Linked DNA regions of Homo sapiens. The protein of the gene in region 1 interacts with the protein of each later gene in a pairwise test. Each region holds a gene or a part of one and is shown on either strand. Other genes may lie near its edges. The genes, in order: TEX11, NECAB2, SOX5 and USP15.

Region 1 (6,309 bases):
CTCCCGAGTAGCTGGGACTACAGGCACGCGCCACCATGCCTGGCTATTTTTTTTTTTTTTGTATTTTTAGTAGAGATGGAGTTTTGCCATGTTGGCCAGGCTGGTCTTGAACTCCTGGCCTCAAGTGATCTGCCCACCTCAGCCTCCCAAAGTGCTGGGATTACAGGCACAAGCCACTACGCCTGGCCTGGAATAAGTTCTGTTAGAAACTGGGCAACAGATTCTCAAGGATGTTAGAGAGAGATTTCATGAATCAGATAAATGCTGGCCCTGGTGACCACTAAGGTCCTTCCAAATAAGAGTCTGGGATTCTTTGATATCTTCAGGGATTAGGAATTTGAGCACTTTGGGAATAAAATGCAATCTGTGTTGAACTGGGATGAACATTCTCTTTTGTTCAGATGGGGCATAAACCATCTTGCTCTCACATGGTCTATTTCAATATCATCCTTAGCACTTTGGAAAATTCATTTGTCCCCCAGAAATGAGCTGGTCACCAAGGTAAATTCAGCATGCTTTTATTTTAGAAAGTTTATTCAACAACATGAAAACAGGGTCTGAGCAAACAGAAACAAAAGCTCAAGAGAAACTCTGGCAAAAATTTAAACAGTCAGCATCTCGGGACAATGTATCTTCTTCATGTGGCCATGAGCTTGCCTAATCTGACTTGCTCCAGTAGCCATGTTCATGAAAAACTGGGCCCTTGTTGTTACTCAATGCTTCCACAAGCTGACTATACAGCATATTCATCTGGGAAAGAGAACAACAAATAGATTTCTTGAGGGGAAAAAGAAATGTGGGAAAGCTTCCCAGACCCACGGTGATGGCATGAAAGTCTAACCGTTACCTTCGGAGATCTGAAGCATCTCAGATTTGGGGAGAAAATACAGTCCTCTCTTGAGGAAAAGGAATCCCCTATTATAAGGGAGAAGATACTTAACTATAAAATATCCTTTGCTCTTATTTGGTAACAAGGCTTTTTCTCTACCAAACCTCTCCTGGTTAGCCAATGGCCCAGAACTCTGCAACTGAGAATAGTTCCTGGAGAAAATGCCTTTTTCAACAGTTATTGCTTTGAGCAGAGGCCAGTCCTTTCCCACATGCACTGGCACTGACAGTGATGCATCTTTCCAGAGCTCACTCTTGGCATTCCTCTTAATTAGATTCCATTTGCTATCCTTAAATTTCCCCCTGTTCTCTGTCCTTCTTGGTTTTTGCTCTAAGGAATTACTGTTTATGGTCTCCTGATTCTTGAAGTTATGTGGAACCATTGAGAGGAACAATGAGCAAGATCCTTTCCTAGCCAAGGAGGATGGGGTTGAGTCCTTGTGGAGAGCCCAGCCATAACCTCTTGCCCCCTAGGTCATGTCATCTGCCCTAGCCCTCTCCCTCCTTACCTGAGTTTCATAGCTTTCCTTGAAGGAGGTAAGGTGGTTAAGGAAACGCAAGGCCAGGCCACACCACTTTTCAGCAGATGCATACTTGCTCCTGCTAAACATAAGTACTCCGGTATTCCAGGACTTGACCATCAGCCAGAGAATCTCCATTTCTGGGTAGTCTTTCTATAATCCAAGAACAGAAATTTTGCAGTTATTACTGTCACAGTTCATTGTGGCACTACCTGTATCCATGCTATGTCCCTTTATTACTAAACAAACAATAGGAGCTCTGCTGATGTTTAGGAAGGTCTGTGCTCCTGGAGAGTGCAGGAGGAGAGCACTTTGAAGGTTTGTCAGCTGTAGAATGTTCCATAGCAAGATCTCATGAAGAGACGTAAACCGAGGTCCTCTCTGACTGAAGGAAAGAATTAGAAAGATTCCTAATCTTCCTGAGGCACGAGAAAAACTTGCATACTGTTTGGGGCTTCCCTTGATTCTGTCTTCAGTCAATTACCTCCCTAATACCTACCTCTACTTTTCGGATAAGGTTGTCAAGAAGCAGTTTTATTGAATTTCTTAATTTCTGTCACCAGAATTAGTCCATATTTGGAGTAGAAATTATATTCATCTTCAGAGTTAACGATATCTACCTAGCTATGAACACAGCACACATTTCTAAGATGGTCCCTTAGCCTTATCAGTGGTCTTTAACATGACTAATCACAAGATTATATTTGCTTCTTCACAATACTTTGCAATAGTGAAAAGTATTAGTCTAAGAAGCTACTTTCTTGGTTCTTGCATAGGAGATGGAACACAAAGAAAGCATTCATGTTAAAGCCCCAGAAGGGAGAAATGTGATAGGAGACACATTAGGCAGCAGCTTTTTGAGAGTGTCAAGAATGCTGTCTCAGCTGTCATCCTTTCATTCATTTGGATCCAAAAAGAAATTACTATACATAAAACACTGTGATAATGAGGGCACTAAGAGGGAAAAGACAAAACTTTTATCCTAAAGGTTGTGCAATGCTTTTGGGGACACAAGGCATCCACATGTAAAGACGACTTCACAAGGTATGTGATTAAGAGACACAAACATTAGGTGCTCTCATTCAGTTAAAGAAATGAGCACTAGGATATTCCAGTCAGAGGCGGTCTAGTCTCTGCTTGAAACACTACTCCTCATCCTTGTCCACTTCATAGACTTATACTTTTTCTTCAAATTCACAAGAACAGTTAGTTGTCTGTTCCCACAGTGAGCTTTCCATTCCTCTAATATAACTTATGTTATATTGTTTTGAAATGCTATGTATTTATCTCCTCCAGACTATTGAGTTCCTTGAGGTACAGGGAATTTTTCCTGTGCATTTTTGTATCTTCAGAGTCCAGCACTGTGCCTGGCACATAAGAGGCACAACAGATGTTTGCTGAATGAATGAATGAACAAATGAATCAATATCCAGTCAGATGCCACCTCCTCAGTGAGGATTTCCCTGGCTCTCCACAATTTCTTGCTCAAACCTCTTTGCCCCTCTGCTACTTTGTTCACAGCACCATAATAGTACTTTGAACACTGTACTGCCTGTCTCCCCCACTAGGCAGGGAGCCCCTTGAAGGTAAAATGACATTTGCCTTTGCTTGGCACAGTGTCTGATACAGGGTATGAGTGTTGTGATTTTAATGTTGTGAATGAAAAAAATGACTTAAACAAACAAACAAACATGATCTTAGGGTAGATGAGTAGGATCTACATATACAGAGATTATATGAAATGTGCAGAATAGGCAAAGCCATAGAGACAGAAAGGAGATTTGTGGTTGCCAGGGGCTGGGGAAGGGAGGTATGGGGAAGGACTGCTAATGGGTATAGAGTTTCTTTTGGGGATGATGAAAATGTTCTAGAATTAGATAATGGTGATGGTTGCACAATCTTTTGAATATACTATAACTCACTGAACTGTATACCTTAATGTGAGTTTTATGATATATGAACTAAATCTCAATTAAAAAGAAAAATATAGATATTCAGAGAAAGAGAAGGGCATTCCATGTGGGTAGAACAGAATAAATGAAGACTTGGATTGTACTTGAGAACAAGCATGTCTTAGGAAGACCAAGAGTTCTTTGGCCTAAGCAGACGATTTATGTAGAGGAGTTAACGGGAAATAAGACTGGAAATGTAGGATGGAGCTTCCTAAGCCTTTCCTCAATGTTCTTCCTCAGAACACTAGTGTCATGAGAAATGTTAACAGATGGTCTATGAAAATAGAGTTCTTTAGTCAAATACATTTTGGAAATGCCGCATTCTATATATCACCCTTTTGGAGCATTATAATGCACACTAGTTCACTGAAAGTTTAGGGAAGTTTTACAGTAAAGAAACCATGGAACTTTGTCTAATCCAGGGTATGTGGAACGTTTGCTAACATCTTGTGGGCTGGAGTGTTAAGGGTTTTTGCATTACAGGCTTCAGATTTTGAAATTTATCCTGCTGGCAACGGGAAGGCACTGAAACTTTTTGAGAAGGAGAGTGATATGATGAAAGTGTAGTTTTAATAAGATAGAAATGCCAGTGGTGTTTAGAACAGACCTCCGTGTGGGAAAACACAGACAGGGAGACGTGTTTAAAGGGAGTTATGGCCTGGCGCAGTGGCTCACACCTGTAATCCCAGCACTTTGGGAGGCCAAGGCGGGCAGATCACCTGAGGTCGGGAGTTCGAGACCAGCCTGACCAACATGGAGAAACCCCGTCTCTACTAAAAATACAAAATAGCTGGGTGTGATGGCACATGCCTGTAATCCCAGCTACTCGGGAGGCTGAGGCAGGAGAATCGCTTGAACCCAGGAGGCGGAGGTTGTGGTGAGCCAAGATTGTGCCATTGCACTCCAGCCTGGGCAACAAGAGTGAAACTCCAAACTCCGTCTCAAAAAATAAAATAAAGGCCCGGCGTGGTGGCTTGTGCCTGTAATCCCAGCACTTTGGGAGGCCGAGGCAGGCAGATCACGAGGTCAGGAGATCAAGAACATCTTGGCTAACATGGTGAAATCCTGTCTCTACTAAAAATACAAAACATTAGCCGGGCGTGGTGGCAGGCACCTGTAGTCCCAGCTACTCGGAAGGCTGAGGCAGGAGAATGGCGTGAACCTGGGAGGCGGAGCTTGAAGTGAGCCAAGATCGCACCACTGCACTCCAGCCTGGGCGACAGGGCGAGATTCTGTCTCAAAAAAATAAATAAATAAAAATAAAATAAAATAAAATAAAAGGAGTTGTGTGATCTAAGAATGAAGTGATGAGGGTCAGAACTAAAATAGTGACAATTTAGATGGACGGATGTAAGAATCATTTAAAGGAAGAATCAATAGAATTTGGTAACTGATTTGATATGGGGAATGACAGGTCAAGTGAAAATGGCTCTAAGGTATGTAGTTTGAATGGCTGAAAGAATGCTGGCATCACTGAAAGAAAAAATTGAAGGACATGTTTCTGGGGATAAGGGACAACAATAAGTTCTATTTTAAACAAGTTGGCTTGAGGTAACTCTGGAGATAAGCAGGCTGTTGCAGATATGGATTGGAACTCAGGTAATAGTTAAAGTGTATTAATTCACTTAAAGGACAGAGTACAGAATACAGAGTAGCAAAGAGTAGAGAATATTGGAAATGTTCATAGTTGGGTGGTAAGAGGGAAAAGAACGCAGAGGAGTGGCGAGAAAATAAAGGACAAAGGAAAACAGAATTTCAATAAGGAGGCAGTGGTCAATAACGAAGGCCAGGGAAAAGAGACCATCATATTTGCCTAGACGGTGGTAATTTGTGGTCTTGTAAAGTGTGGCTGACAGTGCAGAATGTGAGGGAAAGAGTGGCTCAAGATGAGGACAGATAGGTTAGTAGGATCTTGTATACCACATTCAAGATTTTGGTCTTTATTTTAAGAGCAATGGGAAACTACTAAAGAGGATTTCAAAAGGTCATGCATACTCAAAAATGTAAAAGATTGGCTGGGCATGGTGGATCACACCTGTAATCCCAGGACTTTGGGAGGCCGAGGTGGGCGGATCACGAGGTCAAGAGATCGAGACCATCCTGGCCAACATGGTGAAACCTCATCTCTACTAAAAATACAAAAATTAGCTGGGCGTGGTGGCGGGTGCCTGTAGTCCCAGCTACTGGGGAGGCTGAGGCAGGGGAATCGCTTGAACCTGGGAGGCAGAGGTTGCAGTGAGCCGAGATTGCACCACTGCACTCCAGCCTGGTGACAGAGCGAGACTCCATCTCAAAAAAAAAAAAAAAAAAAAAAAAAAGTAAAAGATCACCTTGGTTGCTGGGCAAAGAAAGGAAGGAAGAAAGCAAGAGTAGATGTGAGGCCAGTTAAAAGGTTCCTGAGATCACTAAACTAGCTAAGATAAAAGGTGTGTAACTTGAACTAGGTTACTGATGGTGAAAGATAGGAGGAAGTAGATGAATTTGAGAGATATTTGGGAGGTCAAATTGATTGATAGTACTTGGTGATAGATTAGAAGTGGGAGTGAGGGAGGTGCTGAGGATGACTCCTAGATGTCTGGCTTGGGCAACCAGAAGAATGATGGTGTCATCCAATGAGTTAGGGAACACTCGAGTTTTATTTTAATTTGCATTAGTTGCCCTCATGCCCAGCATTGCTTATGAAAATCATTAATCCTCAATAAAGAAATGCATCCACACAGCTACTGACCTGAAAGCCACATGGACTTGCCTACGTGTAATACAAATCAATGTCAGCAAACTGAGGTGTTTGCTCTGATGGTTTTTGGGGCCACATATTTTAAACCAGTTTTCTCTGTCCTCAACATCTTAATACATATGGCAGCCACGTAGATCTCTAACTGAATCGTAGGTATTCTGGAGCACAAATGCCTGTCCTTTTAGGCTCTCCATAGATTCCCAAAGTAAAT
Region 2 (7,037 bases), on another chromosome or scaffold:
TCCATTTTAGATAATCCCTACCCACCCAGCTAATTCCCACACTAACCAGTAAACTCCAGTACACAGAGAATCATGCCTCATCCAGCTAATTCCCAGACCAATGCCTGTTTACAGATAATCCTCAAACTAACAATAATGCAATAGCTAGCTTTCTTGGGCTCACCATGCACTCAACATTTTCCATGCGTTCAACAAATATAGAGTATCTGCCCCCTGCCAGTGAATTTTCTCTCAATTTACATGGCCACCTGGAGGCAGGTGCTATTTAAGATAACCCACTGTGAGCAACTTGTCCCATGTCACACCATCGGTATGAAGTGGATCCAAAAACCAGCAGCTGGATGAGCCACCACTCCATAGCTTCCAAACGCCAAGTGGTCTCTGCATGCTCCCAACCCCAATCCCAGCCCCTAAGCCCTGACTCTCTCAGCACTGTTCTTAGAGTACAGAAGAACCCTTTCTTCTCCGCCCCATCTATGTGGCAAACTTCAGGTCCTTCCCTGAGGCAGCATGAGATGGCTGCCAATGGCCGGCATGAGGTTCTCAGTTACCTCCTCTCCCAGGCCACAGATGCAGCCATCTAGATGCCAAGCCATGCAGGAAGGAGGTGCCAGGCCTGGAGGTGCCAACGCTCTGGCCAGAGGCTGTGCTTCTGAGGTGGAGCTCCACAGAGGGGCCTCCACAGCTCCTCTGTGGAGGGGCTCTGTGGAGGGATGGGTGGGACACATGCCACCAGTCCCACCCATCGCCTCACCTTTTCCCTTCACTTGCAGTTGCTCTGGGGACACTTTTGGCCCTACCAGGAAGGTCTTGTGGGTTTGGATCAGATTGGGCCACCAGGGGAGGTGGCTTAAGAACATCAGGGACTCTGGGAGGCGGTCCCTAAGCTTCCACCCTCAGCTCCTTCCACCTGAACAGACCTGCTGAGCAAATGCCAGCAAGCTCATCCCCCACCTGCCCTGCAGCCACCTCCCCCCTCCTCAAGGATCTGTTCCTCCTTAAGAGAAACTATGTGAGTGGCATGGAGGTCAGAGACAAGAGGGAGCCCATGACAGTTCCTGGCCCCCAGCCTCTCTGCATAAACCCCTGGCATTACTTCCAGAGGATCTGCATTCAAAGCTGGGTGCTTGGGACAAGGGCCCTGAGAGTCCACATGGCACCTTCCTATGGATTAGAAAAAGACTCTCCTTTCTCTGCCGAGAGGATGAGACCAGTGTCAGTGCACATGTGTTGAAAGCGGATTGCAGCCTGGATTTGAAACCCTCCATTTCCTCGGGTGGGTGCCCTTGTGCAGCGCACAACCTGCCTAACCCGACATGGCAGACGTACTTGGGTTGAGAATGAGTCATTCTTAAACTTTAAAGGCTCCAGTGCTTCTGTCTGTGCTCCCAGCAGCTCTGCTGGAGCTCAACACAGGGTGAGAGCATAAGCTCAGGAGAGGGGGGGTCCTCAGATCTTGCCAAGGTTTCATGCCACCACTTTTCTCTTTAACCCCATAGAGCATAAAGTATCAGAGACCGGTAAAGAATATGAACGTGTGGGCACGGGGGGCTAGGGCCAATATCCCAAGATGCCCCCATCGCAGCTCAGATTTCAAGGTTACAGTGGGAAGAATTTCTGTCTTTCAAAGGAAAGGCCAAAAAAACCCCAATCCAACCACACATGCACAAACCAAAGACCCAAAACCTAACAACTAAAAGTCCGCAAAGTCAGCCACGAGATAAGTGAAATCGAAGTTGTTGCTTTCTGTGTTCTGTGACAGAGGATGCCTTCCGAGTGTCTTCGGCAAGCCTGAAGATAAAACCCAGGAATCCCAGTGTGGAGTCACACCACACGTGGAGTACCTTCCACGGACTCACTCCTTTAGTCTTCTTAACACTCACGACACAGGTAGTACTACCACTTCCATGTTAGAGAGGGGTAAACTGAGGCACAGAGCCCTTAGGGTACTTGCCTAGGTCCTACAGCTGAAGCTTGAACCCAGGCCATCTGGCTCCCAAGTCCAGGCTCTCAACCTAATCCAGGGGTAGGATCTTGTGGCGACATCGCCACCTACCCAGCAGGGGGTGGGTGCTGGCTCAGGCACCCCCACTTTGGGTGAGGGGCAGTCACCATGGGCATGACAGGGGTTGTGAGCCCCAATCCCAGCCTCCCTCTGGCTGGCTCATCTCCCCACGTGCCTGTCCAGGTACCTTGGGCCCCCTCTGCACACAGGGAGAGCAGGCAGCCAGAGACCAGCAAGGTGCCCCCTCGGCACACAGGGAGAGCAGGCAGACAGAGGCCAGCAAGGTGCCCCCTCACTAAGCTTTCGGCTGACATTTATCCTGAACGCCTGATCACGGCCCTAATGAATTCACTAATGAGGAAAAAACATGCCCTACGTAGGCCCCCAGTCCAATTAGACAGGCCAAGCGGGCCCGCGCTGGCACTTTTGCCAGAGACCCCAAGCGGGCCGTTTGCAGGTGTCTTTGCTAATTAGCACAAACTCACTCTCTGTCTCCATGACCTTTCAAATGCCAAGAGCCTGTCAGCCTGTCAGCGTCCATGTCCCTGAAGGGAAATGCTGTCTGCCACTCAGCCCTCTGCCACCCCCTGAGTTTATGTCCCAGGCTGCCAGTCAGGCCCCTCATGCTAACCTTCCCATAGGGACTGGGCATCCGGTATCCAGCTCAGCCAAACAAGTCTCTGTCACAGGAGCCACCCTGACAGGGCAGCCCTGAGCCTTTGTTCCTGTAATCTCTAAGTCCTAAGGGCAGCCTGGGGGGTCCTTTGAGTTTGCACCCCATCTCCCGCTCCCCTGAGGCATCCCATCCATCCTTCCTGTGGACACGTGAGGCAGGGCTAGCGTCAGTGTTGAGCAGTCCTGTGTGTGCTTGTGGGCCTATCGGCCTCCACATCTGCACCCCCTGCACACCTGTTCTCATCCCTGCACACCTGTTCCCATCCCCGCACCCACACCTCCCTGCACACCTGCTCTCATCCCTGCACACCTGTTCCCATCCCCGCACCCACGCCTCCCTGCACACCGGTTCACATTCCCGCACCAACACCTCCCTGCACACCTGTTCCCATCCCCGCACCAACACCTCCCTGCACACCTGTTCCCATCCCTGCACCCACACCTCCCTGCACACCTGCTCTCATCCCTGCACACCTCCCTGCACACCTGCTCTCATCCCTGCACACCTGTTCTCATCCCTGCACCCACACCTCCCTGCACACCTGCTCTCATCCCTGCACACCTCCCTGCACACCTGCTCTCATCCCTGCACACCGGTTCACATTCCCGCACCCACACCTCCCTGCACACCTGTTCCCATCCCTGCACCCACACCTCCCTGCACACCTGTTCCCATCCCCGCACCCACGCCTCCCTGCACACCTGCTCTCATCCCTGCACCCACACCTCCCTGCACACCTGCTCTCATTCTTGGATCCACACCTCCTTGACACCTATTCTCACCCCTACACTCATTCCTCTTTCCCCAGCCATTCTATTCCCACACCACTCCCCTATCTATACCCACACCAAGTCCCATCCCCACTCCTACAAGCTTTTAAGCTGCTGTGTTGAATCAGAACCTGCCTGCACCGCTGCCCCCCGACCATGTGAAGAATATCACGTGCCATCTCCGAGCCTTGTTTTCGTCATCTGGAAGGAGGGTGGGGGTTGATACTTCTTGTCTCAGGAGGATCACAATGAAGATTAAAGGAAAAAGCACATTCAAGTCCTGGTGCATAACAGACGTTCAGTGACTGCTGGCAGCCTCCCCCAGACCGAATTCCCTGCTGAGCACAGAGGAATCAAACCCCTCTGGACAAGCCACACCTGCGGACTCCCATTTCCGAGGCATTTGAGGCAGAGCAGCGGGGACTTATTGATATCTTCAATGAGCGAAGCCAGGAGAGCAACTATCTATCCTCAGACAGCCCTCTGAGGTGGGTGCTGTAATTATTCCCATTTACAGATAAGGAAACTGAGACTGCAGAATTTGGTGACTTGCCTGAGGCCAGAGCCGGTACGCGGCTGAGCCAGGACTTGAGCCTAGGCAGTCAGGCTGGGGGACCTGGGAAGCTCTTGCTGGAACCCGCATCTCACACCCACATTCACCCTGGTGACAGCCCCTAACGGTCACATAGTGGTGGCTGGTAAGATGTAAGCCCCAAGGAGAAGGAACAGGCTCGGCCTTTGAGGAGGCTGCAGTAAGGAAACTGAGAGTCCCACAGCTGTGCTCAGGGGGTGGACACATGGCCTCTGATGGGGGGAGCCTGCAGCAAGGACAGAACCCCATCTGTGCCCGAGGGGGCCAGGCACCACCTGCCCAAGTGTATACACTGCAGTGGCTCCTGCAGAGCTGCACACTCAGGAAGCCACACACGCACACTAACTGCACACACACTCGGGATGCACAGCCATGGCTAGAGGCCCACGCTGGACACACGCATTCCCAACAGCCTCACGCTGCTGAGTCACCGAGATACGCACAGCCACGCTCTCACCAACAAACACGTCCACCAAGTCTACAGACATTTACCGAGGACCTACTGTGTGCTGGGTATCAGGCCCGGGACAAGGGACAAACCCAAATCCCTACCTCTCAACCTGCTGGAGGAGCCAGGCCAGCACACAGGCAATGACGCTGAGGGCTCCGGCGACCCCATCTCAGGGACAGCCCCCTGATTTCCCCTCCTCATCTCCAAGGCTTTTCAGGCCATGATGCTACGGCTGTTTTTCCAGAGCCACTTCATCTCCCTACGTCCCTCTTATTCCTCCTCTGCTCCGTATGGAATCACTGCTGATGGTCCTTCTTCCCCAGAGGCCTGGGAGTGGTCACTGTCACCCCCCAGGGATGCAGGAGGCCAGGGTGGGAGACTCGTTGGAACTGATTCCAGCCCAGGCCTGTGCACCTGCCCTCCCACCATGCCCAAGGCCTCCAACTCCACCCTGCAACCGCCCTGGGTGGGAGCCGTCAACAGGAACTCCCAGGGATGAGGCGGGTGCTGGAGACCCAGGCCAGAGCTGCCACCCTCAACTGCAGCTTGTGCAGGAGAGGAACCGGGGCCAGAGGCGTTGGGGACCAAGGGCCCTGGGGCAGGTCACAGGGTCTCTGTTGCGTGCTCTTCCCCTGCCACAGGCTTGGTACTTGATGTGCATTTTCTCAATGAATGAACATACCGGGAGCACGCGATTCTCTTTAAAAACATTTGTCACCCACACCGCCTCTCTGGCTTTTCCCCAAAACCCAGGGAAGGAGGCAGGGCAAGTGTTATTGCCCCACTTTACCCACGGGAAAACCAAGGCCCAGAGAGGGAATCTGTCTTGGTTCAAGTCCACGGTGAGTTGCGTTGCAACTGTAATAATGATTCTGGTATTTTTAAGAAGGTGCTTTTTGTCAGCCGAGGCTCAGCTGGGCCGCCTAAACGTGCTTATTCTCTCAAGGCCTGGGCTCCTTCTGCAAGTGAAGCCCCTCCAAGGAGTCGGGAGAAGTGGAGCGCTATGAATTCCGTGGCCACAACAAGGCGCTGCTCACATTTTTAAAGAGGCTGAGAGAGAAAGGGAAAAGGGCCCCGGTCTTCAGGAGAGCCTCCGTTTCCTTCATGCAGCTGGGCAACCCTGGGGCAAATTGCTTAACCTCTCTGGGCTGCTATGGTGTCAACAGAGGCAAGAGCACTGACTGCTCAGGTTGCTACGATGAAGAACTGCACCAAGGCTTGTGAAGGGCCTAGCGTGAGGCTGGCGGCTTCCTTTCAAGGAGGGTTTCTGGGCCCCAGCCCGGGCTCCTCTGGTCCAGCCCAGCTAGGAAAAGGCCTAAAGTACACCCAGCCCTTACCACGGCCAGTCATTGTTCTTGGCATCACAGACAAGACTCACTGAGCCCTTGAGTGGAGCTGTCCCTACTAAGTAGGCCCTACTAGGATTCCCGTTTTACAGACAGGGAGGTCAAGGCACAGAGCAGCAGCAGGATTTGGCCTTCTAACTTCAGACCCCTGCACTCCAAACCTTTAGGTTCAAGGTTGCGCTTGTCTCCTATCCCTGATCCCTTCCCCATGAAGCACGAGGACAGAAGGAGTGGGGCGGCCGTCGGCCTGGAAGGGAAACTCACCATTTTTGTCCGCACGGCGGAAAATCTGCAGAAAAGAGAGGCGGAGTCAGCCCTGGGCCAGGGAGAGGCAAGCGCTTCCTGCAGCCTCTGACCGGATACTGGGATCCTTCTCTTCTCCCAGGAGCAGCTTAGGGTCCTGGGAAGCTGAGCCCCCCTTCCCTCTCCCCCTCCCCGGGCTGGGATCCAGGGGGAACTGATGAGGGATGTTGCAGACAGAGGCCCTCCCCTCACCCACGTGGAAGCGGCTGCCAGTACCACCAGCCTGCTCCCAGCCACGCTGACACACACACGCAGGCCCACGGCCATCCCTGCAGGTGTAGGTCCACAGTCATCAGTCCACGTGGCTTCACCCACCGCCAAACGCTCAGCTGCACACAACCACACTCCGAATCAGTGTCCCAGGGAGCGCCACAACCTTTACCACTGCAGTCCTTCCAAAACCCCTGGTGTGTTTCCAGGGAGGTTGGGCAAAGTCCGACAGAGGTGTTTGCAAGGCCTGGTGACAATGCCAGCCACGGGCAGGACTGCGTTAATTTTGGGGTGCAGGAGGAGAAACAGGACGCCAAGAGTTCAGAAAAGCAGCCGCAGACGAAGTTCCGGCTGCATTAGGCAGGGATGGGTGGAGGGCAGCTCCAAGGCTGGCCTGAACCTACAAGACCAGGTGCCTCCTCGTTCTGCCTTTCCAGTGACATCTGAATCCGTGGGACAGAGCTGCTCCCCTTTCCTCAAGGTCTGGCTGGCAGGTGCTGCTTGCCAGGCTGAGGCTCGAAGGCAGCTTTCCGCCCCTTCCAACACCATCGCCTGGAGAGCTTTCAAAACCTCCTCAGCCCGGGCCACACCCCAGGGTGACTGAATCAGCTGCTGTGAGGCCCACTCTGATTTCAGCATTTTTAAAGCCTCCCAGGCCCAATGTTGACACCTGTGCGCTAAGAC
Region 3 (4,704 bases), on another chromosome or scaffold:
CTAAAAAAGTTTAAGGTAGAACTGAGAGGCTAATGTTAAACAATTCAGAAATATCCATTATTCAAAATGAGATACCAGCGAGGTGAAAATTATTCATAGTTCTTAGTAATTTCATGATCTGAAATTTATAAATCTTCTATACAAACGAAAGGATAAAGCACAATTCTAAAGCATAGAAACCCCCCATCCCCCACCCAAGGATAGTGTCCAGCCAGGGAAAACAACAATATTAAAGGTGCTTTAGACTGTTGGGTTTTCAATTGTGTTGAATCAATTACATATAAGAACAGTATCTTTTGACAGTATGGTGAAGCTAGATCTGTCTGAGTGAAATGCATTATATCAAGTCCTGACTGTCTTTCTGGGAATGTCCACAGCTAAAAATTAAACCTTTAGTTCTTAAAGTCAACTTCAATAAGAGGGATTATTTATATTAAAAACAAAATTAAATTTCCATACTTTTGTTCTTTTCATAATAAAACTAATTACACCCTCATAACAATAATTGTGAAAAGAAACACAGTATAATAAGTAAAGAACACATTTGCTGTTTTTATTGGTGCCTTGCATGGCAGTAATACTGAAAAAGGAGAATGCAAAAAAATAAAATAAAATAAACAAAAAACAAAAACGAAAAACAGGTTGGTGGCAACCCACATCTTTTTTTTAAGAGCACATAAACTCCTGTTTTATTTTTATTGTGGCATGAATGATAACATAAAACCAAAAACATGAAAATATACAACTTATATTACACTATGTGTTATGAACAAAATATAAATCTATAACTCTATGTTATATTTACATAATTACTTATTATTTTATTAAATTTCAAGTGAGATGGTAGGTTGCACATACTTTGTTTTAAGCTCCAGGCATTTGATTGTCTCTTTTCTATTTTTTTTCCATTTTTACTTGTAAAATCCAAAATATTAGAAGGACTAAGAGCTTTAGAGCCAGTGGAGCTATATAAATACTGTTTTAGTGAACCAGTGACGGAAACACTGGGGAGGACAGGAATCAATCAATCAGTAGGAAACTCAACACATCGTCTTCAACCTGGGAAGTTGATAGTTATAGGATACTTTAAAATTAAATACTGTAAAAGCCTGGCTAAACCAACAGCTATGCCCTACAAGACAAAGGGATACCTGAACCACTTTAAGTGGCCTTCATAGTTTTCCTTGCAGACCCCGTAAGTTTTATTTTATTATTAATTTGATAGACAAATACCTTATAAACCTGTTTGTAAATATACAGTTGTTTATTACAATTCAACAATTTACCCATTAGAATGAGTGAAAGTGTAATTATTTTTTATGTTTTAAATGTGATATAAGAGGTTTCTTCTGGGAACAGTCACAGCTTCTGGATTAAGAAAATATCTGAAGTTGGACCAAAAAATGGTTAATTTTCTTTAAGTGAATTAAGGTAAAATTCTACTCCGGAAATCAAATCTATAAAATAGCTTCACCACAGAAAACTTTTTTATATTTGTTCTTTATAAGAGGATTTGGTTCTAACGATGATTATGTTCTTTGGGAGGGATTTTATACATGGTTAACTCTTAACTGCAGATGCCAAATGAACTTCACAAATGGACTTCACTAATTTAGGTATAAATGTGCTGAAGAATAGTTTTATATTTTATCCAATTGTGGTAAGTTAATCACTAACTTATTATTAGTAACTATAAATGAGTAACTTTATTTTCTCCGGTAATGTTCTCTTAGATTCATATGAAAACAGGACTATTTTTAGAGAAACGGACTACAACAACTATAAAAACCAGAATTCTGGCAAGATTATTTCTCAGTGTTGGGGCAAGTGTGTGTGTGTGTGTGTGTGCGCGCGCGCGCGCGCGCATGTGAGAGAGAGAGAGAAAGGGAAAGAGATAAAGTGTGAACAGATAGGTAAGAAAGCAGACAGGAAGGAGACTGTTTATGTTTTAGTTTGATCTTTTGATCTTACTCTCATTTTCTTTATCTTTTTTGGTCATTATGGGGCACAGAAAAAGAATACAGGGTTTTAGGATCCTTTACCAAAATTATAAATCAACCAATGCCAAAAAGGCAATGTAGTAACACAGTAAGTTGCTATTCATAGCACCTTTTATCAAGTGACTTCAAAGCACTTTCAACATTAATATAACTATTTTTGCTTTTGTTTTCTTTTGGGGAAAACTAGGGCAAAGAAAATTTGATGTCCAGTGAATTAACCGTCAGAACAAGAGAACAGAATGCAGCGGTATGAACTTGCTTTTTGTTTCGGTTCATGCACAGTTTAGTCTCGGACATAAACCTAACTAAAATCAAATTTTGAATTTCAGCAGTTAAAAGTCACCATTAACAATTTTGTTTTCCCCTTCAAATAAAACAAAATATAACAAAAAAAAGACCAAACACCAAAGTGTTGTCAATTCATCGGTAAGTGTGTTAGAATTGATTTCAGCCATGAATGCCTTCAATGGCATCTACCTGGAGCTAAAACAAAGTATTCTTGTAGCCCAAACTCATGAAATGAAAACAAAGCATCTTTCATAACATGGTGTAAAGTAAGTATCCAGCAAACGTGAGAGGTGAACCCACATAAATCGGAAGGAATTTGTTAACAAAGACAGAGAACAAATTTTTTAAAAATCTGTTTTCACATTGTACATAAAAATGATATAAAAACAAGTGTCTATTTTTTCCTTATCCAGAGTGCTTAAAAACAAAACAAACAAAAACAAAAAAAAATTGGCTCTAGATGACTGTGGCAATTAAATAACTAAAATGAGTGATGAGAGCATAAGTTAATTAAGATTGAACACGACCCTCCTATTAATTCACTCCTTTGTTTTAAACATCAGAACTGATATTGTTGGGGCCAAAATTCTTAAAAAAGAGAAAACTTACGGAAAGAGAAGTAAAATTGTGGGTAAATGTGTGTGTGTGTGTGTATATGTGTGTATATATATGTATATATATATATACATATACATACATATATGAGTTGGAGATGGAAATTTGTTTTAAATATCTAACAGCTTATTGGCTGCACTTCCAAATCAGAGCAGAATAAAATAGAAAGGGAGAAATAAAATAAATTATACATAACTTACTAATCTGGGAACAGCTGACCATTATTATTATTATTACTATTATTATTATTATTTTATCATCATCATCATTACAACACTAGCAAAAAGAGGCAGTTCAAATGTAAATAAAGTCATCAAAAACAAACAAACAGAAAAACAAACAAAATGAAATCTCTGACATGCAGGATATGATCAGCTCCTCCAAGCAAAACCCCAGAGCAAGTCTTCTGAGAGAGAGAAAAATAAAAGGGATTCTTTTTTTATTTATATGTAAAAATCCAACTTTAGGGTGGTGTTTCGGGGGGTGAGATAGGAAAATGATGACTGGAGTGAAAACTATAGCACATCAAGCTACTAGTTGCAGTATTTACTATCTATCTGATACTTCAATACAAATAATGGCAATTGACTTGAAATGATTTTGCATTTATTTGTACAGGCCCTACAACTGCCTTGGCATTTGGCTGGCAAAATCTACATAAGCAGTCCCATCACATTCAGTTGTTGCTCTTTGCAAATACTCTGCTTGAACCAAAGTTGGACTTCAGTGGATTAATCTGACAGCAAGGGAAGAGCAGTGGCAAGGATCCCTGGGTGCAGCCAGGCTCCATTTTATTGGGCTGCAATGACTTTTAATTAAATCCTACTTTTTATGGCATGAACTACATATGGCCCACACTTCTGAAATGCTAAAGGCCTCCACCTCACTTCATGGAGGGGTGAAAAATACCTTATAAAATCATCAGTTTCATTTCCTGATCGGGAAAGGATGGAATGTTGAAGAAATAAGCTAATTCTATTTGTCTGAAAAAATGGCCAAATATATTCAATGAAAACAATGATTGTTTTGCTCAAAATATCAACAGGAAAAACAAAAATCACTAAGTAGCAAACGTTAATGGAACCAACTGACCAGGGAGAAAGGACATCTGGGAGCAGTTTGCTAGTAGCTTCCATGTTATACATGCACACCTCTATTACACAGGGCCACCTGATCCATCCAATAATAATCAGACATTTAAAAATATAATTTCTGAGCCCTATACTTGGTTAAGTTGTCATTTGAAGTGCAAAGTCAAGGTCAAGATTATTTCTAGACCAGTCACTTGGGAGGATGTGGGATTTCATCCCCAGATGTGGGTTTAACTCACAATGGTCCAACGTTATTCCTATTATTAGTACCATAATCACATACATACATACACACAAAAATCCAAGATCAGAAAATATTTTTCTCTAAATTTCTTATGTCTCTCTCTCTCTCTCTCTTTTCACCTGAGAACAGCACCTACAGTTTCCATTAAAAAAAAAAGTCAAATCTCACCAGCTGCTGGTATTTCAGGTTTTTCAAGGGATTGTCTAAGATTTAACACTGTCCTAACTTAAGAAGGAAAAGGAAAAAGTAAAGAGAAAAAATGAACTTGGTCAACACTTCAGTACAAATTTGGCACTTGCTCAAAGATGTAGTGTGGTGTGCAATAGATAAAGTCCTCTAAAGAAAATAATTGCTTATTTTGTGGTGGATAGCAAGGAAGTTAAAAACAGGCTCTTTTTCCCTCTTTCCCCTCATGCACAGACTTCCATCTTTAAAGTAGAGAGATGGAGAAGGTGGAGAGAAGTAA
Region 4 (7,037 bases), on another chromosome or scaffold:
AGTTAAGCCAAGCCTTCTTAGACATGATACCAAAAGCAAAAGTGACAAAGGAAAAAACAGGCAAATTGAATTTCAATAAAATAAAAACTTCCATGTTTCAGTGGACACTACCAAGAAAGTAAAAAGAAAATCCACAGAATGGGAGAAAAATTTGTAAATTAACTATTTAATAAGGAACCTGTATCTAGAGAACTTTTACAATGCAATAATAAAAAGACAAAATAACCAAATTTTTTAAATGGGCAAAGAATCTGGACAGACATCCAAAAGACATACAAATGGCCAATAAGCAGGTGAAAAGATACTCAACATCATTACCTATCAAGAAAATGCAAATCAAAACTACAATGAGATACTACTTCATATCCACTAAGATGGCTATATATTAAAAAAAAGAACATAAGTGCTGACGAGGTGAAAAAACTGGAACCCTCATACACTGCTGGTGGCAATGTAAAATTACGGCCACTTAGAAAAACAGTCTAGCAGTTCCTTAAAAAGTTAAACAGGGACCTAGCAATTCCACTTACAGGTATATACACGAGAAATGAAAACTTGTAATGGATGTTCATAGCAGGATTATTCAAAATAGGCAAAAATTGGAAATTCAAATGTCTATCAATTGATAAATGGATATATCAAATGTGTTATATCTATACAATGGAATATGGTCACATACCACATAACAACATTTAGGTCAATAACAGACACATTATGTCTGGCTAGACACAGTGGCTCATGCCTATAATCCCAACACTTTGGAAGACTAAGGTGGGAGGAGTGCTTGAGGCCAGGAGTTCAAGACCAGCCTGGGCAACACAGCAAGATCCTCATTTCTACAAAAAAATAAAAATAAAAAATAGACACAGTGGTGCTTGCCTGTAGTCCTAGCTAATTGGGAGGATGAGGCAGTGGAATTGCTTGAGCCCAGGAGATCAAGGGCAATGTGAGCCAATATTGGGCTACTGCATTTCAGTCTGGGTGACAGAGCCAGACCCTGTCTCTAAAAACAAAAAAGATCATAATATTGTATTTTTACTCTACCTTTTCTATGTTTAGATATATATATATACACACACACACATATATATATTTATACACACACACATATATATATACTTACCATTGTATTAGAATTGACTACAGTATGCACTACAGTAACATGTTGTACAGGTTTTTTTTGCCTAGGAGCAATAGGCAATACATCCTAGGTATGTAGTAGGCAATCCCATCTAGATTTGTGTAAGTACCCCCTTAAGATGTTCACACAACGACAAAATTGCCTAACCATACATTTCTCAGAAGTTATCCTTGTCATTAAGTGACTCATGACTGTATCATTCAGCAGTAAAAATAAACATTGATATATGCTATAACATGCATGAACCTAGAAAACATGTATGCTAAGTAAAAGAAGCAAGATGCAAAAATCGCACATACTATACGATTCCATTTATATAAAATATCCAGAATAGGCAAATATATAAAGACAGAAAATAGATTAGTAGCTGCCTAGAACAGAGGAGTTTGGGAGAGAAATGGGAGGTGACTATTAATGGGTATGAGGTTCCTTTTTGGATTCCAAAATTGATTATGGTCATGGCTGCACAACTCTTTCGAGTATACTAAAACCCAGTGAACTGTCCACTTTAAGTGGGCAAATTGTAAGGTATGTGAATAGCATCACAATAAAGCTGTTTTATATATACATATATATTTTAAAAGCAAAGAATGGAGGGGCCACAAATTTGGATGAGATTAGAGGTGGTTTTAGAGACTGACTTTGAACTAGGTTTTGAAATGAAAGTCAGTAATTTTTAAGAAGTATCTGAAACAACAGAAATGGGGCATAAAGGCCCCAAAAGCAGGAAAAAGCAAATAATTTGCAGGAAATGGGAGACACTATCTGTATCAAAACAGAGATATGTTAATTAGAAATGAGACTGCTGAGACTACAAGGCTAAAACAAGAAGACTCACAAAATTCTAGAGGCTCTTGATATTAATAACAAATGAAAATGTGTTTAACAAGTATTACAAAGCTGTCATTTCTTGATTTTAATACTTTCAAGTATTTGTCTTTCAAAAAGTTGCTTCCATAATCTGGGTATGGCTCTATCACACATAGGCAGGCAGTACACTTAGAATTTAAAATGCAAGCTTTAAGTTAGACCTCCTGCTCTACCACTGACTAAGTGTTATGACCATATACATTTAACTATCCCAGTTTCTGTACTGGTAAAATGAGAATACTACCATGTATTTCATATATGTAATATATTTGGAATAAATATATTACATTATATATGGAACCTGTATCTAGAGAACTTTTAAAATGCTCTTAACATAGTAAATGAGTAATAAGTTATTGTAAACCATAGCCACAACTATGTGGTACATATAAATACTTAGCTACATCTCTCCTGAGAATTAAAAAGTTCTTCAGCTTGAAATCCATTCAAATGTATGAATATAAATTTCCCATCTTTTTATCAAAGGCAAATCTCTTGACTAACCTGTTAAACTTTGTTAAGCTGTAAAAACATATGGGTAAATAACAGAAATCAATCCAGATTACCAGGTGTTTTCTACCTGGAACAAGGAACTTGATGCTCTTTTCAGTTAAGTAACTTTGTCTCTAAATGTTCTCAGGTCTTGATTTAACTGGCTCTAAACTTAGAATACCCTGGCCTCAGAGCCACCCTTGAACTTCTTTGTGAGATCTTTGACTTCCTTCACAAAGAAGTCCTTGCTACTGGTACTTCTGCTAAATGATTTTCTCTTATGGTGGGGAATTACCACGCTAATATCTGGGTCTTCTCAAAACTAAAGGGAGAATGGAAGGGACAGTTAGCATTCTTAGTTCTCCATTCCTTGGAGGAAAAAAAGGCATCATTACTCTTTTCTTTTTGGAGAGCTATAAGGAAACCATGTAGAATCTTAGTGATGGAAGTAGTAAAGGCAGTCTAGACATAATCAAATGCAGGTTAATCCTACAGGGGTTTTCTGTTTTATATTATAATTGGAACTTATTTCCTTCTTTGTAAGGAGCCATTTTTGACCCTTCCCTCAAATAATTTTAATCTGTATCCAAAACTGAGGCTACTTACTAGGCTTATGCTAGATTTCTTGAATAGTGACTTTTGTGTAAACTGGGTGATAAAATCTAAAGGATCTACATTCCCCTGTTTAAAGGATAAATGGGAGAACGAGTCTGGCGAAGTGGCTTCAGAGGAATGAATATGAGACACAGAATGTGAATTACAGTGGTAAGTGAGGAAATTAAAAGAAACAAGCTAGACTGACATTACTCAGGGAAGAAAAAAAGTATTTAGTAATTGTTGAAAAATTCTATACAAGGACTAAGAAAAAAGAGAAATTCCCATGGTTTAATGAAATATTGTTTGAATTACATTCGAGTAGTGACAGCATAAAACCATTTTTAATACTAAGGATCTATTCTTAGTATTAGATAGTATCTAGTACTTTAAATCTTTATAAACCAGGTATTTAAACCAGCTCTGAAATCATCAAAGATAAAATGAAGTGTAATAAGAGCATGTACTTTAAAGGCTATGTAAGTGTAAAGCATTTAAAATAGTGGCTGCGACAGACTAAGCATTTAATAAATGTCCGCTGGTAGTAAACTATGAGCAAGCAAATTAATTTCTCTCAGATTCCTCATCTATAAGTCATATAAATATATATATTTTGGTCCTTCTTTTGAGGATCAAATCTCGTAATGCACATAATCAACCTTTATCAGTTGTTCTCTATCTTCCCCTTATTTCCCTACCAATATGCCCAATGGTTTCAATTTACTTTTGTCAATAATCATGACTTATTAATGAAGTGATTTTCAGTGAAAAAAAGAAGAATCACTCTAAACTCACATCATAAGATAAATTCAAGACTAAGATAGCAAAATTGACTGTTTTATTATCATTGTATCTTCCACTATCTTAATTTAAATGTTCTTTCACTTCAAAAATTCTTTAAGAGTTATCTCTAGGGAAAAAATCAGTTGGTGAACATAATAATGCATTCATATTTGCATTTTCTGTGCTGAGTGGTTCATATGGATTTAAGTCCAAGAAGAAAGCCGTATGTATTTGTGGCTTATAGTAAACCAATACCATACTTTTAAAATATGGACCAAGTACCGAAACAAAATAGCCTACAAGATCTTACTATATGCTTCATGGGTTATTTCTGTAAAACTATATGTGAAGGGGCCATATCATCTCTAATAAGAGCTTATGATTATTGATAGACAATTAAAATTCAAAAGCTCAATAGTAAATGACCTCAAATTTTTTTGTCTGAATGTACTTGTGGATCAAAATGACATTTGCTCTGTACATTCAATTATTCACCTATCAATCTTTAAGCATGTTTTAATATCCAGAAGCAAGGTGTTAAGATTTCCTACATGTTCTATCATATCTAAACTGAACAGTCACAAGAGGCAAATGGTAGAATTCTGCTACTAAATATAAAATAGACTTCCTTTAAAAAGAAAAATAGGTTCTTTTCTTTTTAAAGTGAATCTACTTTTTAAAAAATGAATCTTTAAAATAAGAGACAGAGGCTGGGCATAGGGGTTCACACCTGTAATCCCAGCTATTAATACTTGCGAGGCTGAAGTCAGAGGATCATTTGAGGTCAGGAGTTTCAAACCAGTCTAGGCAACACAGTAAGATCCCGTCTCCACAAAAACTTTAAAAATTAGCTGGGTGTGGTGGCGCACACCTGTAGTTCCAGCTATTTCAGAGGCTGAGGCAGGAAAATTGCTTGAGCCAAGGAGTTTGAAGCTACAGTGAGCTATGACTATGCCACTACACTCCAGCCTGGGTGATGAAGCGAGACTCTGTCTCTAGAAAAAATTTTTTTAAATAAAATCAGAGGCAATGTGGTACAGTGCTTTAAGGGCACAAACCAAAGACCTAAACTACTTGGGTTCAAATCCCAGCTATACCACTATGTGAAAACCTTTTTGAGCCTATGATTCCTATTTTGTCAAATGTGAATAACACCGATTCCCAGAATTGTGGTAATATGGTGATGAGTAAATAAGTCAATATGCATTTATAACAGTACCTGGCACATAGTGTTTTTAAATGTAATATTACAGGTCATGGCCTGACAAACTGATTTTATCTTGTTACACTTACGTAGAAGCAAAATTGTTAACTGTCACAAAACCATTTTGCAAAAAGGTCATTTAATGCCTTATATGTGCTAACAGGAAAATGGTATAATTTAGGAAAAAAAGCCTTAATTTCACAAAACAGATAAACGAAATCATTGACTAGCTCTGGACCTTCCTGGACTATTAGGGTACATTAACCCTGGACTCACTAACAGAAGTCATTTAAAAACTTACGAAAAAGGCTTAAATTAAGAAAAGTTGCTTTCCTAGATTTTTAAGCATCTAAGATGTGAAACATGCCTTAAGGTCACTATCTCTGTCCTTGTTTTCACCAATTTACCAAGACTGAAGAAGTTTTTCCTTTTAGTTTCATTTCCTATAAATGATGTAGTATATACCCTACTCTGGTCGTAAACACCCTGGCACTACTGAAACTAATTTTAAAAGTAATAGTAATATAAAAATTTCTTTAAGTATACACTAAATATTTTGAAATTCATGTTGAGTAATAGTGTTCCTTTTCATTATTAAGGGATTTGTGAGTATAAGGTTATTTTCTTTTAGTTTCAAAGTTGCACGAACATAAGGGATCAAATAAAATTAAGCCTCAAAGATTTCTAAGTAAAAGTCGGAATGGACAGAAAGCTCTAAAAACTGAAATCAATGTCTCTTGTCTAAAACTTCACTGATCAGATTCTTTGGCAATTATTGAAATGAAAATGTCACAGAGATTTTAAATGACTTCACACACAAATTACTTACTCTGTAAAGTTACCTACTACAGTTATTAGGGTTTATACAAAAATGGCATGCAATGTTTTGCTAAACTGCAAAAGTTAACTACACATTACCACTTAACATAATCACACATAAAAATTACTGAAAATGATTGGCAGATGAATAACATTTAATAAAAATGGTGGAAACGAAGCAGTGCTTTGGATGATTTGTGGTTATGTTTTACTTACTCATAATAGGCCCATTTCTTTAAAAATTTCCAGGCCAGAAATTTTGCAGGTGGTTCACACCTGTAATCCCGGCCCTCTGGGAGGCCAAGGTAGGCAGATCACTTGAGGCCAGGAGTTCGAGACCAACCCGGGTAACATGGGGAAACCCTGTCTCTACTAAAAATAAAAAATTAGCTGGGCGTGGTGGCATGTGCCTGCAGGCCCAGCTACTGCGGAGGCTGAGGTGGGAGGATCACTTGAACCCTGGAGGTGGTTGCGGTGAGCCGAGACCACGCACTGTACTCTAGCCTGGGCGACACAGCGAGACTCTGTTTCAAAAACTTTTTTTCCAAAGAGAGTATTTTATAACCCATAATTTTCTTTGTAACTCATTAACTACCATTCCTTAAATATGTTCCTAAAATACTCATATGTACCTTAAGCAAATTATCTTTTTGTCTCATCAGAAGAAACCACCATGTATCTGAAAATTGTTTTTAATTCATCCTAAGCGATACAATTCTAGTTCATTTATCTCTTTCCTATAGTTCCTAAACTCTAAATTTTGTTCGTGTTTTTCTGATCTCTTGTTGAAATTGAAACACAGATCAACAAATATCATTTTGAGACTGCTTTATTCCTTATACAAATCAGTGCTACCTTCTTCTTGCTTTTTAAAAAGGTATTACTCTCGTATTAATTTTGATTTACTTCTCAATATAAAGTCTAGAACTAAATACATCATAAAGTATGTTTCTCTTCATCTCACACTTGTGTAACTTATTTTCATCTCTAGAAAATCAGTTTTTAGATAAAAATCATTCACTGCTTACAAATAAAGAGAAACTGTAGTACTTACACAGAATGAAATAAATCTTTATACTTGCCTAGGTATGGAAGTTAGTTACCCGAGTTACCATGAGACAGTCATTATCTGCA

The links.
Region 2: the proteins of TEX11 (region 1) and NECAB2 interact in binary tests that used the Homo sapiens proteins (3 or more experiments, as listed by UniProt).
Region 3: the proteins of TEX11 (region 1) and SOX5 interact in binary tests that used the Homo sapiens proteins (3 or more experiments, as listed by UniProt).
Region 4: the proteins of TEX11 (region 1) and USP15 interact in binary tests that used the Homo sapiens proteins (3 or more experiments, as listed by UniProt).

The regions. Positions count from the first base shown.
Region 1 is NC_000023.11:70,528,438-70,534,746, forward strand, and holds the end of TEX11 (testis-expressed protein 11), read right to left. Parts: intron 1,563-6,309; coding exon 1,398-1,562; intron 751-1,397; coding exon 658-750; 3' UTR 503-657; downstream 1-502. UniProt on the Homo sapiens protein: Regulator of crossing-over during meiosis. Involved in initiation and/or maintenance of chromosome synapsis and formation of crossovers.
Region 2 is NC_000016.10:83,971,243-83,978,279, reverse strand, and holds part of NECAB2 (N-terminal EF-hand calcium-binding protein 2), read right to left. Parts: intron 6,130-7,037; coding exon 6,105-6,129; intron 1-6,104. UniProt on the Homo sapiens protein: May act as a signaling scaffold protein that senses intracellular calcium.
Region 3 is NC_000012.12:23,528,972-23,533,675, forward strand, and holds the end of SOX5 (transcription factor SOX-5), read right to left. Parts: 3' UTR 533-4,704; downstream 1-532.
Region 4 is NC_000012.12:62,263,404-62,270,440, reverse strand, and holds part of USP15 (ubiquitin carboxyl-terminal hydrolase 15), read right to left. Parts: intron 1-7,037. UniProt on the Homo sapiens protein: Hydrolase that removes conjugated ubiquitin from target proteins and regulates various pathways such as the TGF-beta receptor signaling, NF-kappa-B and RNF41/NRDP1-PRKN pathways.